Regions from separate parts of the Homo sapiens genome. Here region 1 is linked to region 2. The links come from fine-mapping of genetic effects on plasma protein levels. Region 2 holds a variant in brackets. A gene starts in the other region. All regions are shown on their reverse strands.

Region 1 (2,898 bases), not on the chromosome of region 2:
CATTGCTATTTATTTTTGTAATAATAGCGGCAATCGTTTATGTTGTGATCCTGTAGTGCCAGGCCCTGTTCTGAGTGCTTTACTTTTCCTGTTATCGTGCCCAGTTTACAGAGAGGTGAGGGCACCTGGCCAGGGAAAGCTGGCTTTGGACCGAGGGACCTGGCTCCCGAGCCTCTGGGCATCCTCACTCACCTGTGCTGCTGAGCCCCAGAGAGGTGCTAATTAAGCAGGAGTTGAATTAGAATAAGAGGTGATGGTGCTGGAAGGGAGCTTCAAATGAGGAGTCAAGAGGCCTGCCCACTGCTCAGACTCACTGTGGGAACTTGAGGAGTCCCTGCACCTCTCTGGTTCTTAGTCTCCCCCAACAAGAAGCATAAAGGCGGTGGTTTCCATGTTTCCCAGCACCCCTCTCCCACCTAACCATCTGCAGCTGAGCTGGAACTCACACCCAGACCTCAGACTCCATCTACAGTGCTCCCTTGACGCAGGGTTTGAACTCTGGGGCTTGCAGGATGGGGTGGGGAGGACACTGGAAGTAGCCACTCAGCCCAGCCTGGGGAGCAATGCGTCCAGCGTGGGCCTCCAGCCAGATTTCTGCCAAAAACAAACACAGGCAGGCAAGCTGGGGAGGGCTCCCTGGGGACAAAGGAGGCTTGCACAGGATGGGCAGAGGGCAGGAAGGCGGCGGAGGGCGCGGGCCTCATGGCCCTACCTGCAGGCATCCATGAATGGCTCCATGTCATGCTCTGGCACGGATCACTGACCCCTTTCATTGCCTGCCCATCAGCCCGGATATGAGGTCCCGGAAGGCTGTGTTTACCCAGGGGTGGGGGAAACCTGCTACTTCCCTGAGCCACTGCTTCATGTCCTGGGCCACTGAAGGTCCCATCTACTGTCTGACCTGACTTTCTCACACTGTAATCTGAGTTTGGCCTTGGGGGAAACCGCTTCTGATCTCCTGGCTTTGGTGGGAAACCAAATTCTCACCGGGAGGCAACTCGAGGTGAATAAACATGTTTGTGCTGGCGTCCTGGACCTTGGCAATGTCTGTCCCTCCCTGGGGCTAAGTTTCTTCATTGTGCCCTCCTTAGGGGATTGGGGCAAGACTTGGAAGGATCTAGCAGCACAGCCGTAAGACAGAGCCCTCGCACAAGTGGGACCCAGAGAGCGGATGGTTCTCTCACGCTGAGCTCAGAAGGGATATAACTTTAGAACACTCCTTGCATCACGGTGCTAGACAGACCTCTCCCAAGAACACACGTGCGTGCACACACCACATACGCAAACGTGTACACCCAGGGTGAACAGCCGTACCTGTGCACACACATCCAGGCAGCATCATGGGCTTGCACCCTCCCCGACACTTAAGTACACACGTGGGCACAGCTCTATGAAATTTCAAACTCATAAGTAGACACACACAGGTAAAAATAGCCCCTCAAACCGACCTATGCCCACATCACCAAAGCATGTGAGCAAGTCACATGTGCACACTTGCACACTGGCCACATGACGTACTCCCCCCTCACGCATTTATGTAATAAGCATTTGTTGAGCAGCGCCATGTGTCAGGCACTGTCTGGGTGCCAGGGACACAACTTCCAATTAAAATCTGGGTCCTCATGGGCCTTTTGAGTTCACAGCTACGCACACACACTTAGGATTGCACACGCATGTACAGGCTCACAGACACTCACTGGGTAACACACCGCTTACCGTAGCTCAATGCTGCCTTGTTGAGTCGGACCACGGTGCCTGGCGTGGAGGCACCGACCACGGGCAGCAGCAGTGCCAGCAGCAGGCCCAGCCTACTTGCCCAAGCCATGGCTGCCCTGGCCGCTGCCCACAGGATCTGTGGGCTGGGGTAGAAATGAGCATCAGGGAGCTCAGCCAAAACAGCCCACCCCTGAGCCACCCGAACCCCACTCCAGCCTGGAGGGAACAAGCCCTGACTGGTGATCCCAGCCCTGCCCCAGGCCCACAGACATCAGTTTTTGCATCTCTGCATTGGGAACCATCACCTTGCCTTGCTTGCTTCATCAGGAATCATGGGGGAGTCCCTTCTGGAAATGACCCGCAATGCCCAGAGAAGAAATGGTCTTGCCTAGGGCCACACAGTGGACTGGGACCAGGTGCAGGACCCAAGCCATGGCATAGAAGGATGGTGAGACTCCCAAACGGGGAGACTGAGGGTAGTTTCCTGTCCCAAGAAGATGCCCAGGACTGTATCACCTGATGCCGGAGTCCAGCCCCGTGTGACAGCCAGCTTGGTGTCCAGCTGTCCACCAAATTCAGCCAGGGGAGGACCCAGGGTGGCTCCTGTCCTCATCCCCTCCTGGCCAGGTGGTAAATGGCCTAAGAGTAGGCCTCTCACATGGCCCCCATCCTCTCCTGACTCAGTCTGGCCAAATAGGCAGATCTGTGTCTGACTCAGGGAGAGGGAGCCAGGCAGGAGTGAGGGACTGCGGCTCAGGTGGGTCTGCTGAGACCCAGGATGGCGGCACTTGCCCAGGTCCTACAGCAAGGCCAGGGGTGGAAGGACCCTTCTGCAGAGGGTGGCTGGAGGTAGCATCCCCACTGAACAGATAGAGAAGCCAAGCCTCCTTGGAAGTGGTGTACCAGCCCAGCCCCATGCCTACCTCAGGTGGTTCCTGAGACAGGTGAACTCTCAGCCCCAGGGTAGCCCTCCTCTGCCCGAGGCAGGCAGATGCAGAGGCTACTTTATAAGGCTCCCAATGTGCAGAGTCCACTGGGAAGGGACCCAGGGAGCGGCGAGTTTGCTTGTGGTTGCAAGTGTTTTCCCTGCAAACATGGCCTTTGCCAAAGTGTCTCATCCCACATGTGCGCTGGGGCTGCCACGTAGCCAGTAGCCAGGCCCAGCTCCCAACCACTACAAGC
Region 2 (2,910 bases):
GTATCTATTGAGTACTAACTATACCCCAGGCACTGTCCTAGTACTGATGATATAGCAATGAAAAAACAACTAATTTTGCAGGGAGGAGTGGGGCAGTCTGTGGAAAAAATATCTCAGCAACTGTGTGAGGCAGACTATGTTAGCTCCATTTACAAGTGAAGCCATTGGGGCTTGGAAATGGCAGTGACTCACCTAAGGCACACAGCTACCAAGGGTAGTGTAAGAAGTCGGTCATGATGACACAAAGCCTAGGCTGCTCTTACTGGCCCACTGCAATCTCTCACTCATAAAGAAATTAGAGGCAAAGACAGAAGGAGTGGATGACCCAAGATAAGAAAATCTCATAGTGGCTAAGCCAGGAAATACACTAGGTATCTTGCTTCCAAATCCAGTTTTTTAGAGTACTGTCTTGTTTGACATTCAACGCTAAGTCTATACACGGCGTCATTCACTAGGGGTGGGGGTGGGGAGATTTAGCATGGAGATGGATCCCCATCCTCAAAGCAGTAGCCCCTAGAGCAGTGCATCTGTGAGACTCCACAATAACGCCACTGTCCTGGGGCAGATAGGCAGCTTAATTGCCTCTAGGAATGCAACCCTCTGTCAAAAGCCCTACCTGGACGTTCCAGGAAGAGTGATAAGGATAGGAGGGGCTGCTGTGAATCTGGCATCACAGACAGTACCAAGAGATGGTGTGGGTTATTATGTGTTTTAATCAAAGGCTTCAAGGAAAAAAATTGAAACAAGTGGCTAATATAAACAATTCCAAAGTTGCAAAGGTACAACGTTATAATTTGTACCAGTCAGAATGGCTATTAATAAAAAGTCAAGAAAAAAAAGATGCTCATGAAATTTTGGAGAAAAGGAAACACTTATACACTGTTGGAGAGAGAGGAAATTATTTCAATCATTATGGAAAGCGGTACGGTGATGCTTCAAAGAGTTAACTGCAGAACTACCATTTGACCCAGCAATTCCATTACTGGGTATATACCCAGAGGAATATAAATCATTCTACCATAAAGACACATGGATGTCAATGATCACAGCAGCACTGTTCGCAATGGCAAAGACACGGAATCAACCTAAATGCCCATCAATGACAGACTGGATAAAGAAAATATGGCACATACACACCATGGAATACTATGCAACCATAAAAAGGAATGAGATCATGTCTTTTGTAGGAACATGGATGGAGCTGGAGGCTATTATTCTTAGCAAACTAACACAGGAACAGAAAACCAAATATCACATATTCTAACTTCTAAGTGGGAGCTAAATGATGGGAACTCAGGAACACAAAGAAAGGAACAACAGACACTGGGGGCTACCTGAGGGTGGAGGGTGGGAGGAGGAACAGGAGCAGAAAACATAACCGTTGGGTACTGGGCTTAATACC[T/C]GGGTGATGAAATAATCTGTACAACAAACCCCAGTGACACAAGTTTACCTGTGTAACAAACCTTTACATATACCCCTGAACCTAAAATAAAAGTTAAAAAAAAACCCACAAAAAAACAAAGTTATACTTTGTGATGAAATACTTCCTGTTGATTTTCTTACAAGGGAGTCCTTCCAAGAAATCACATGTTTTAAACTAATAAGATTAGAATACTTGAAAAATTTATTTAGTTTCACAAACATTAGTCTTTTTTGTTTTGTTTTGTTTTTGAGACAGAATCTCGCTTTGTCACCCAGGCTGGAGAGCAGTGGTGCAATCACGGCTTACTGTAATCACTGCCTCCCTGGCTCAAGCGATCCTCCCACCTTAGCCTCCCAAGTAGGTGGTACTATAGCTGTGTGCCACCATGCCTGGGTAATTTTTTGTAATTTTAGTAGAGGCAGGGTTTTGCCATGGTGCCCAGGTTGGTTTGAACTCCTGGGCTCAAGCAATCTGCCTGTCTTGGCCTCCCAAAATGCTGGGATTATAGACACGAGCCACCACACCCAGCACACAAACAATTAATCCTTTGAGAGACACAGAAGACAAACGGTATCAAACAAGCTAGACAAGACAGGCAAGGAATGGTATAAGGGAGGAAATAACTGATTTTAACCCTTTAAAGAAAAACAGTTAGCATGTCTAACTTAAAAACTCAATGTTAGAGCTGTATTTGTTGGTACAGTTGAGTATGACATGGCAACATTTAGACTAGCAGTTTTAATTTGATCTTGTCAGAATTGATCTATAGTGCAAACGTAGTTATGCACATAGCTGAAACTTTGCGGAGAGGTAAGCAGGTACACTGATCAGAATTGTTAGGTAAATAACCATAGATTCACTCAGGAAGAATTGTACAACTCTGGATGCATTTCAGTGAAGAGAAAAAGAAAGGGTTCTGATGAGCTTTCTTTTTGAAGGAATAGTCCTTTCACTTCTGATTTTTGGAGTATGAGAGTCTGAGGTTGAAGATACTCTTATATGTATGTAAAGTCTATAGTCATCTTTCAGCTGAGCTGGTCTTTGAATTCCAAGTTTAAAAAGCCAGCAATTTGCCGTTAGCTTTCAATCCAGATCTCTGAAAAATGCCAACAGAACATAAGACATACTATATCATAACACAACAAATAGGAAAAAACACTTAATAATTATGGCACGCATGAACTTAAGTTTCTAGTTTCCATTTTTTTTTCCTGCCCTTTGGCAATGATCCAATGGGATGAACCATTGATCATTCAATATTCTTTCTACACATATCCAAGATATTGATTACACACCAGGCTAAAAATTACAATGTTATTGATGGACTACTGAATTAAAATGTCAAGTTTGTGCCTAAGAATCTTGTCTCTCAAGAGGTGGTAGAAAAGGGCTTAGAGCATATGACTCTTTTGGGGGAAGGTTACAGTTCATAAAAAATCAAAATAACAGATAGCATTTATTAATTCCTATATGCCAGACTTACACTA

Direction of the effects. Positions count from the first base shown, and alleles are read on the strand shown. Strength reflects both the effect of a copy and how common the allele is.
In carriers of allele T in region 2, the plasma level of the protein whose gene starts at base 2,696 in region 1 tends to be higher than with C alone (weak association).

The links. PIP is the chance, under the fine-mapping model, that this variant and not a neighbour inherited with it causes the effect. Protein levels are from antibody-based Olink assays in UK Biobank. Linkage for the fine-mapping came from a reference panel and not from the study's own genotypes, which makes the PIPs less certain.
Region 1: it holds the start of BPIFB2, and the variant in region 2 is fine-mapped to the plasma level of the BPIFB2 protein (UK Biobank, PIP 0.94).

What each region holds. Positions count from the first base shown.
Region 1 is chr20:33,007,502-33,010,399 of GRCh38, reverse strand. BPIFB2 (BPI fold containing family B member 2) reads right to left here and starts at 2,696. Exons shown (of 16, transcript NM_025227.3): 1 at 2,640-2,696; 2 at 1,717-1,859. The coding sequence starts at 1,825. RefSeq lists enhancers at 1,321-2,315, 2,316-2,898.
Region 2 is chr4:110,001,254-110,004,163 of GRCh38, reverse strand. The region is part of intron 21 of EGF (epidermal growth factor); the gene reads right to left. Among named protein-coding and RNA genes, the nearest start is that of EGF, 90 kb to the right of the region's middle. The variant T/C (reference allele first, on the strand shown) is at 1,403.